3 linked regions of the Homo sapiens genome follow. The protein of the gene in region 1 purifies or fractionates together with the protein of each later gene. This does not show direct contact. Each region holds a gene or a part of one and is shown on either strand. Other genes may lie near its edges.

Region 1 (3,655 bases):
ACTTTCCATATGTTATCTCATTCACTCCACGCCAACCCTGTAAAACGGGTAATCTCCACTTTAAAAACGGGAAACTGAGGCATAGAAAGGTTAACTTAGTTGCCCAAGGTTAAAAGGCTAAAAGTTAGAGCTTGGATGTGAACCCAGAGCCTTTGTAAGTAACTGCCCAACGTGCTGCAGTTTCCTATGGTAGAATGGGCAAGGGTCAGCTTACAAGGACACACATGCAGTCAGCACCCCATTCCATTCCCAGGAAATGAACCAGGGAATAATAACCAAGAAGCAGCCTCACTTACTTTACTAGCATTTGAGGATATCGTACTTGCCATCAGTCCTTCAAGGTAACTGCTGAGGCTAACTCCTTTCACGGTAATTATGGCTTCTTGTGTCAAAACAGTTCTGGAACAAAACATATTCACACAGGTTCAGATGACCCAGCTTTCATTTTCAAAAAACTTGATAAAAAAACCTTAAACACCCTTTACGATACATTTGTTAAAATATTTTTTACTCACTTTTCTGGATCCTGAGGATGTGGTTTGTATATAAGTCTCTCATCTACTGAAACCATGTTTGTAAATGAAATCTACAGAATGAAGAAAAAAAAAAAAGATCAAATCATTTTGGAACTGAAGATTCAAAATGTTGCTAAAATCAACACACAAGCCAAAATCTTACTAAACATACAAAACAACAAATAAACCGCTGCTATTATTGCATAAACTATTCACTGCCTACTTTTTATTTAAAAAGCAAAGTTGAGGAAATAAAGTATAATAATGATAATACACATAATCCCAAACTCATTTTATTGAGTGCTATCCCCTTAGAGATAGGCAAGATCATGAGAGCAGGAAGGGTAAGGAAGCAACATCCAGGGCCAAGTTAGGCCAGCACATAAGCAGGGATTCTCTGAACCACATCATGAACACGCACTCACTTCTACGGCAACTAGGAGAGGGACAAAGAACTCAGCCAGACAGTTCGAAATGAAACAAAAGGGAGCCAAGACTTACATTAGTAGATTTAAGTTCCATTGTTTTCTCTACAGGATCAACTACAGAATGTTCTTGCACATATGTTTTCGTTCTTGCTGCACCAATAAGCTAAGTAAAACATTCAGAACTAGGAATCAGAGGAGGAAGAATTTCTTACCAAGTCTATCAATATTTTATTTGAAGGAAAAAATGTGTTACAATATTTTGAACCAAAAATCTGTTTTCTAAAAACCAGAGGAAACAAGCAAAGGTCAGAAAGGAGGCCTATTCACATATCATGGATGAGAGGAGACTGCCAGACACAAAAACTTTTCCCGGAGGCAATTAGAAACCAGCCCACTGAGAACGTCTGCAACGTGAGGCAGCACGCTGAATCTGCCGCGGTGCGACGGTGGAGCGCTGAGGCTGAGATATGGAAATCAGGTTTGGGGCAACATGGCAGCTAGAAAAAGGAGAACTCAAAGGCATCTGTCAGTATCTTCCTAGAACAGCCCAAGGGAGGGGGCACCTCAGCTTCATTCTCCAGACAGAAAAACAGCGTTCTTACGATGGAGGCTCACACGTCAGTGTCCACTGTCACTCCCTGTGCTATGACCCCAAGCCCACCCCCTGACCCTGCTCATTTCTGTGTCTGCACTATGGTTTGCATAAGGAGGCAGTAAGTACATTCCTATTGAAAATGTGTACTTTAGTTTTCTTAGTGAACCTACTCTCCATAAAGAGACCCTCTAAAGAAACCTGGATCCACTTATTATACCAGTTTTCTCGCATTATGGTAAACTGGCATTTTAGTTTCTTCCTGGTAAAATCTGCTCACTAAAGCCTGCTCATTCTTAAGGGAATAGAATTGTTTCTAAATGTACAGGAAGGAGTTCCAGACCTTGGAACAAATGTGGCAATAACAAGTCCGAGAACATAGTCCTTACTTAATGTACACAACCCACCACTGACCACAGAACTGTCACCTAACAATTATGACCAGACCATTACTGCCAAACCTTAGTATTGGTCTCAAGTTGCTGGCAAAAGCAGAAAAAGCAGAATAGAACTCCTTTCAGATCACACGGCATTAGCTGGCTTCCTTAAGAAAATTTTATTGGGTGCCTTCATGAAGACTGTAATAATATTTCCAATTCATTATACACTCATAATTCAAGTTTATTATAATACAACTTGAACGGATGCAAAAAATGACATTCAGAATCGGCTCCCACAACCTATTTGAAAGTATAATGCGGTTTAGAAAACTTCTCTACAGCAGTCACATTTCTCCGGGAATAAAGACACACTTACAGACTTCACAATGGAAGGCAGTCCCCACTCTGTGCTGAGAAGTCTGTGGCTGTGCAACTTTCCAGAGGGATCTATATGTCTGTCCAACACATCAACTCCAACCACACTTGGGTTCATAGGGTTTGGGTATTTCTGCATTGCAGCTGTTGTAACAGTTTCCCACGGGTGGCTGCCGATGTGAACCAAAAAAAAAAAAAAAAAAATTCAGACATTTAAAATTATGCATATGAGTTAAACAATTTTTATAATCTATCAAATCATTCATTACAATGTAAGTTTAATGAGTTTACCTAGGAAAAATTACCTTCTGAAACACTGATGATTATGGGAAACTGATCTACATTTTTAACAGGCTTCAGTATTTTTCCACAATACAGGCTATGTAAAAAAACTCATATCTATAAAGATCAAAGCAGTCTACACCATCTTTCCTACTTATCCTTATCCACTTTCACATGTAAATTGTTTCTAGGAAGAACCAATGATTCATGAAAATGTATTTAAAAATTATGTTCTACTGAAACAAATAGCCAAAAGTATCATTATGCCATTTATTATTTTTTCTGACCCCAATTCTATCAGTTTATACGGAAGTAACAAAAGTAAAAGAGTTTATGGGCACTATAAATTCTTACAGGGATCACAAAAAGATCCAAAGCATTGATTTAATTATTGAACTTTCCCTTCATTTTAATGTAATACATAACAATGGCTCCTCCAGTCAATCTTTATCTACTGTTTTTCTCAAAAGAGTGATTCTGATTTCTGTTTTGAAAAGGTCACTCAATATAATAAAATGTCCTTAAGGTGCACTCCTAATATACTATTTTCTAATATTCTCTTTTAATATAATAAGCACTTGCTTATCACCTAGTATTGAAGTGGTAATAATATCACATCACTTGAGAACTTGCAGTATCTTTATTTTCTTCAAAAAGGCACATGTGCTTGGATGATTCAAAATGTGATGCAACCTTTGTTCACTTCACAACTTCTGTGAATAAGACACTTGTACAAAAAATATCATTTTCAAAAGGACCCCTTATTAAGTACAATCAGTATTAAAGGTGACTTAGTCCACCTGCAGTCTGATTCGGATGCTTTCTACACTACTTATCTGTGCTCTCATCTTCATTTAAAGGAAAAAGACAAGATCTGGGGATGATGTTCAAGCCACAATGACTGTTAAGCCACACAGCATTACTTTTTATTTTTCTAAAAGTAAAACAAGTAGACATTATTCCAACCTTTTAGAGAACTCAGATTGACAACTACATCTCGTTGACAAAAGGAAAATCTCAACTCCATTAATTTCCCAGAACCCTGGACAACCAGTGACATCATTTTTAATGTTTTCATTATAA
Region 2 (2,515 bases), on another chromosome or scaffold:
CTCCAGCGTCACCTGGGAGGCGAATGTGCCCTGGGGAGGGACAGTGTAGGAGGAGAGTGGGTGAGGCTAATTCAGGTCCGACCCGAGCAGTCTGCTTATGCCACTACTGAGTACACGCATGGACTAGTGAATGAATGAGGGAGCGAACAATGCAGGGTCCCATGAGGTTTAGAATCGAGCTTGTACACCTGGGAGAGGGTCTTTTTCCTTTCCCTGAGAGCCACGGTGTATGTCCTGATGTCCCATGTCCTGATGCTGCCAGTGAGGCCTCCCTGCCTTCCTGACAGGGAACATGTACTGAGTGCTGAGCCCTGTGCTAAGCAACTGATGTATCAAGTCATCGAATCCTCGCAGGAACTTTATGAGGTAAATGTTATTATCCCCACTTTACAGATGAGAGAAACTGAGGCAGCAAGATGCTGAGTTACACGCCCACTGCCACCCACAGCTGGTAAATCCAAAAGCTGACAATCTGGCTCCCAACGGCCCCCCGTGAGGCCCCTCCGCTGGGCAGACAACAGAACTGTGTGTGTCCACACCAGTCCTTAAACCACCTTCTGGGACCCCGTCCTCTAGCCAGGTCCCTTTGCCTCTCAGTCCTGAATCAACATTTCCTCCCCTGGTAACTGATGCCACCTACACTCCTCTTTGTCTAACGACCTTTGTCCCTGTCCACTTATTAACTGGACACATTTTTCAGGTCTTAGTGTGAACATCACCTCCCTTCATTCACAACCTCCTCCTAGTGCCCTTATGAACCTGCCCCTGGAGACACACTGTGAACACGACCAGTGAAGCACCAGCTTGGGTGGGCTCATATTCTGCCAGGGAAGACAACCAGTCACCAGGGAAAAACACACACACACAAATGAGATCATTTCCAATCAGAAGGAATAAGAAGAAAATAAGACACATGATATGAGAGCAAGAAGGGCGCACGTTGGAGAAGCTAGTCAGACAGTGGTAAATGCTTTGAAGATAAAACAGGATAATGGTTTTGAATGTGTTGTCCCATCCAGTAGCCACTGGCTGCGTGTGGCTGTCCAGCCAGTGCAGCTGAGGAATGAATTTTTACATTTTATTTAAATTTAAATACTGATAATTTGGCCAGGCGCAGTGGTTCATGCCTGTAATCCCAGCACTTTGAGGGGCCAAGGCGGGTGGATCACTTGAGGTCAGGAGTTCAAGACCAGCCTGGCCAACATGGCGAAACCCTGTCTCTACTAAAAATACAAAAATTATCCAGGTATGGTGATGCACGCTTGTAATCCGATCTACTCGGGAGGCTGAGGCAGGAGAATCGCTTAAATTCGGGAGGCGGAGGCTGCAGTGAGCCAAGATCGCGCCACTGCACTCCAGTCTGGGGACAGAACAAGACTCCACCTCAAAAAAATAAAAATAAATAAATACTGAGAATTCAAGACACATTATCATGATTGTGGTGATGATTTCATGGATGTAACACATATCAAAACTTAAATTTTGGAGGGCTGAGGTGAGCAGCTTGCTTGAGCCCAGGAGTTAAAGACCAGCTTGGGCAACATAGTGAGACCCCCATCTCTATCTAAATAAAAGAGTTTAAGAAAAGCAAACTTAACAAATTGTGCAACTTAGATATGTGCGGTTTATTGTAGGTAAATAACTCAACGAAGCTGTTTAAAAAAAAAACAAAAACAAACAAACAAACAAACAAAAAAACACAGATACCCAATGCAGTTACTGGAAATGCAGTTACTAGAAAACTTTTAAGTTTGTTTTGAACAACTTGGGTGTGTAAATCTATTTCAACTGTCATCTTTAGGAATGTGTTTCTCATAGAAATTTAGCACCTGAATTGAGATGTGCTGTAAATATAAAATACATGCTGAATTTTGAAGATTTAGTACAAAGAAAATCCAAAAAACGTAAAATACAGATGGTCCCTGACTTATGATGGTTTGAATTAAGATTTTTCAGTTTTCCGATGATGTGACAGTGATAAACATTCAGTAGAAACCATACTGCCAGTGTCCGTACAACCATTCCGTTTTTTTAGTTCCAGTACAGTATTTGATAAATTACATGGGATATTTAGCACTTTATTATAAAATGTGCTTTATGTTAGATTATTTTACCCCACTGTAGGCTAACGTTAAGTGTTGTGACATGTTTAAGGTAGGCTGGGCTCAGCTATGATATTTGGTAGATTAAGAATATTAAATGCATTCTCTCAGTTATAATATTTTCAATTTATGATGGATTTATCAGGACGTAACCCCATTGCTTGTAGAGCATATGTATCTTAATATTTTTATGTTGATTACATGTTAAAATAATATTTTAGATATAATGGGGTGAAATAAAATATAATTTTGTCTGTTTCTTTTTACTTTTTTATGTAGCTGTGAAAAATTTTAAATTTGTCTATGTGCCTTGCTTCTTTTTTTTTTTTTCTTTTGAGACAGGGTTTCCCTCTTTCACCTAGGCTGGAGTACAGTGGTATGATCACAGCTCACTGCAGTCTTGACCTCCTGAA
Region 3 (4,232 bases), on another chromosome or scaffold:
TATGGACGATATCTTCCAGCTTTGATAACCAGTGATTTTAAGAAATCTGTGACGCAATCCACATAATTTACTGCACCTTTAAAAATGAAAATATTCATAGTAAAAATGAATTAGAGTTTTCACAGAAGGAAGGGAATACAGTTTAATAACTCAAAGAACCCAAAACATTTCCTTAAAAAAAAAAAACATGTTTTACAGTTTCTGAAGTATATGAGTCAAATTTAGTTTTAATATCAATCATCACAGAATATTGCTTGATTGAAATTTCAGTAATTTATATTTGTGTTTAATTGAAAATTCTAAGAAAATGGAAAAGCCAACATAAAATATATTCTATAATTAACTCAATGTTATTAAATCATTTTGTTTTCTCTAATGATTAAGTAGAATGTCTTAAATTGTTTTCTAATTCTTAAGAGAAACAGTGATTTATAACCACCAACTTAATTTTATTAGATACCAAAAATGTTTTCAGACTTGGACATCACAAGCCTTGACAATAGCAATTTGATATTTGCTGATCATTGTTGGTTTCTTCGAAAAGCTTATGTGGAATATTCAATAATCAATTCTTTAAAATGCAATGTTTTGTGAACAAGTAGCATGACTAATACATGATTTGTCTACACCATTAAAAATTTTAATTTTCTTTTTGCATCCCAATCCCTATGGCTTTCAATTAAGTCTTATAGAAAAGGAATGGTGTTTCTTGTATACAATGAAATAGAGGATTGAATCAACTCATGTACAGGAGTTAATTTACATGATTAAGAATGCTAATAAAATACCCGAAATTACTACACTGATTTGTGGATTAAGAAGGCTAATAAAATACCGGAAATTACTACACTGATTTGTGGAAATTGGTGAATAAAAAGTCAGGTTCAAAAAGCTTAGTTTGCTGCAGCTGATATTAAGCCTATATTAACATTTTGATAGGCCACTACAAGATACAGAGCAATATCATCAGAGTTGCTTTGCTCTTTATAAGGTCATTTTATAGTACTGAGACAGAAATAATTGTAATAAATTACTGGCACAATGTGTTTCTAGTAATTTAGAAAATGTTCCGGTATTTGAATAGAAATATAATCAGGATTCAGGCGCAGCTATATTGGTCTGTAAAACCGGATTAAAGCAATCAATCTGTTATCAAAAATCTCTGTCGGAAGATTATTAGGACCACCCAATTCACCGTTTCAATTCTAATGACCATTTGCCCTAGACAGTAGAATAGATAGGTGGAGAAAGTGAGCTTCCAATTTACATGACTTTCCAAACACCTTAATGCCTTTGCGTAAACATCACTGGCAATTTTTTTTAAGTTAAAAAATCGGCAAAATGGAAAGACAGCGGTGGTCCTTTGACCCTGTTCCGCTGGGGCAGGGATCGGGAGGGTGGGGATTGAGACTTCACTTAAGAGCTGCTTCAAGGAGTGCACAGAAACCACAGCGGGCCTTTTCTGAACCATTTGCTATCCCCGCAGCGAAGGGACGCTTAAGGAGGAAGTGCCTGTGGAGCTGAGAAAGCGTTATTTCATCGCGGAATACAAATAATTCAGGTCTCTAGATGGCAGCCTTCAATGCCTTTGGAAAGCAGTCTCTCTCCTCCTCCGCCACCCCCACCTCCCCTCCCACCGCATCTCGGCTCCTTGGCAATGTAGTATCACTCCATGTGTGCCCTGGCCAGTGGATATTGGGTTTTGCTGCTCTCCAAGAATCCGAACTTAAAGTGTTTATTCTAGGGCCTGGTGCTCTGCTCTGGAAGCTACCTACCTACCTGCTTGGGGAAAAGAGGGAGTAGGGATGGCACGAAGAGCCACGCTAAGCCGCTGCCCAGGAGAGGTGGGGCTGCGCCGCAGCCAGGACACCCTCTCCCTGGGAGCAACAGCATCCTTGGCTCCCGGCGCGAGCGCTCCGCGCCCAGCGAGCGCAAAGAGCGCAAAGGCCACCTGCCCGGCTGGGGGAGCAGGCCCAGCACCACCGCCCCGATTTACCCAGACATTTATGGGAAAGACATAAAAATCTCAGGTTCTTAATTTCGCAAAGGACTGAGTTAGAAGGAGTGTGGAACAGGGGCAAAAAAGAGACAGGAGAAAGAAACACACCCCGAAAAACACGTTACTCGCACCCGGCAGCGCCTGGGGTGGCGTCCGTGACCTACCCCGGTGTGGGGGACGAGCAAAACCAAAGGTGTTAAAGAAGGAACTCGCAGACTGGCAGGGGGTGTGGGGACGGTGGAGGACTGTGGGACTGCAGGGGACCTAGGTGTTTTCTGCCCTGTCTTAAGATCTCGCTTTGGGGGCAGTCTAGGTGTCGGTCGGGGGTGAGGGACAATCTTCCCCACCCCAGCAGCCCCAGACACCCGCCCAGGTCAAGGTGGAAGGAAAGCGGGGGTACTTTGCCCTAGCCCGGTTCCCTCCTGTTTTAGACCTTGGAATCTGTCTCTCCACAAGGTGTGAAACCTCTCCAAGCTGTGTCCGCGGAAAGTCCGGCTCCTGGCTCCACCTAGGGCAGAGCAGACCTCCGTCCCTGGGCCTTAGAGGCGGGCACGGGGCTGACCCCCAACCCGTGCCACTCCAGCGCACAGGCCCCACTCAGCATCGCGCCCTGTGGGGCAGTTGACAGGGTCCCCTGTAGCTCCAGCGAGGCTGGGCCGGACTTATTTACAAGTGCAGTGACCCCTGTCTCCTCGCTGGGAGCCCCGTGCAAACCGAAGCGCTCTGGGGCAAGTTGGTGAGCGACTCACAACGCGGAACGGAGTTTGATCGACATGGTATTGGGCATAGAAAGAAGCGGGTCTTACCTTGGTACCGAGAGCAGGGAGTTGCCATCCATTGTTGGTGGGCGCCCAGAGAAGAAAGACGGAAAGTGCAGGCGAAGGATAAGTCTGTGGTGCTAGGACCCAGCTCCCAGAGTGCCAGACTGGCGCGCGCCAGGAGAGAGGCGCGCAGGCTGGGGCGGCGGCGGCGCCCACGGAGACTAGCTCCTCCCTGGCCAGCAAGCTCTGTGCGCTGCGACCGCCCGCTGTCCCCTCCCGCCGTCCTCTCTGATCTTGCAGGAGCGCGTGGCCAACGCTCCCACCTTTCTGCCTGGCTCCTGCCTCCTGCAGGCGGGCCCCAGTCTCAGTTGCTCGAGGATCCTGCTCTATCGCTCATTCGTGCCCAGAAGCATAGGTGACTCCGACAAAATTCCTCTCTCCCCAACCACCATCGTCTCCCCTCCCTTTCTCGCTGGCGTACAGTAGGTCTGAGCCCTGAAGTTGTTCACGCACTTTCCCACATTCACGCCCTCACTCCTGGCAATGCCGACACTCCCCACTGGTTGCGCGCCACTCCTCTGGCTTCCTGTGTCGATTTCATTTTTGTTTGTGGTCTACCATGTTATGGTCGATCACTCAGAACGATGCTGGCTTTGACCTCCTAAGTCTTTTCCCTTTATTTGGACTTTCTCTCTTGGTTTTGGTTTTCACGTTTCTTTAACTCATTTTGCTTAACTGTGACTTAGTCTTCTCTCTCTTCTGTTAGAACCGTGTGCGCACATAGAAATCTCAAAACCTATGAGAGCGGCCATCCATCCGAGGACAGCACTCAGAACCTGGGAGGGAGAGCTGTCACAAACTTCCCCAGTTGACGGCTGGGTATCTCCCTGAGCAAAAAGGACAGTTTTCTTAAGAAGAAAGACACTGATAGTAGCAAATATCTGCTAAAATGAGGGCGCTGTTGAATCTGCTTCTTTTTCCAATTAAAAAACAAATTAAAAATAAAATTTGGGACTTCCACAAATGGGAAGGTTGAGCCAATGTACTTTTAGCTATTCCTCCTAGTAAGTACAACGAAATCCCCCGGATATTATCTCTGAAACAGGCATGAGAAAAAGGTGGACAGAAGAATGCAGACCAGCTAGAGATCCTGGGACTCAAGGCTTGGCATGATGATGGGTTCCTGAGGTTCTCCCAGACTTTGGCTGAAGAAGATGACAACCCGGAAATGTCAAGGGGCAGAGACAGGAAAAGCCTTGACAAAGGACTCCTCTTTCTAGCCAAAGGATCAGGAGAGAGGCAGCTTAGCAAGATGGAAAATTTACACACAATAATAGCTCCACTGTGGCCAAACACCATGAGAAAAAACCTGTGGACCTTTTTCAACTACACCATCAAAGGCCAAGTAGGGAGCCTACATTTCACCATCTGTAGGCTCTAAGGATGTAAGTCAGTCCCCTGGGCGAGGTGGT

Evidence for each region.
Region 2: the proteins of PRELID3B (region 1) and ETFB purify together in Homo sapiens (co-immunoprecipitation; one large-scale study listed by IntAct). This does not show direct contact.
Region 3: the proteins of PRELID3B (region 1) and SPHKAP purify together in Homo sapiens (affinity purification with mass spectrometry; one large-scale study listed by BioGRID and IntAct). This does not show direct contact.

The regions. Positions count from the first base shown.
Region 1 is NC_000020.11:59,036,175-59,039,829, forward strand, and holds part of PRELID3B (PRELI domain containing protein 3B), read right to left. Parts: intron 2,461-3,655; coding exon 2,292-2,460; intron 1,107-2,291; coding exon 1,017-1,106; intron 587-1,016; coding exon 516-586; intron 400-515; coding exon 297-399; intron 1-296.
Region 2 is NC_000019.10:51,347,029-51,349,543, forward strand, and holds part of ETFB (electron transfer flavoprotein subunit beta), read right to left. Parts: intron 31-2,515; coding exon 1-30. UniProt on the Homo sapiens protein: Heterodimeric electron transfer flavoprotein that accepts electrons from several mitochondrial dehydrogenases, including acyl-CoA dehydrogenases, glutaryl-CoA and sarcosine dehydrogenase.
Region 3 is NC_000002.12:228,178,762-228,182,993, forward strand, and holds the start of SPHKAP (A-kinase anchor protein SPHKAP), read right to left. Parts: upstream 2,927-4,232; 5' UTR 2,838-2,926; coding exon 2,806-2,837; intron 1-2,805. UniProt on the Homo sapiens protein: Anchoring protein that binds preferentially to the type I regulatory subunit of c-AMP-dependent protein kinase (PKA type I) and targets it to distinct subcellular compartments. May act as a converging factor linking cAMP and sphingosine signaling pathways.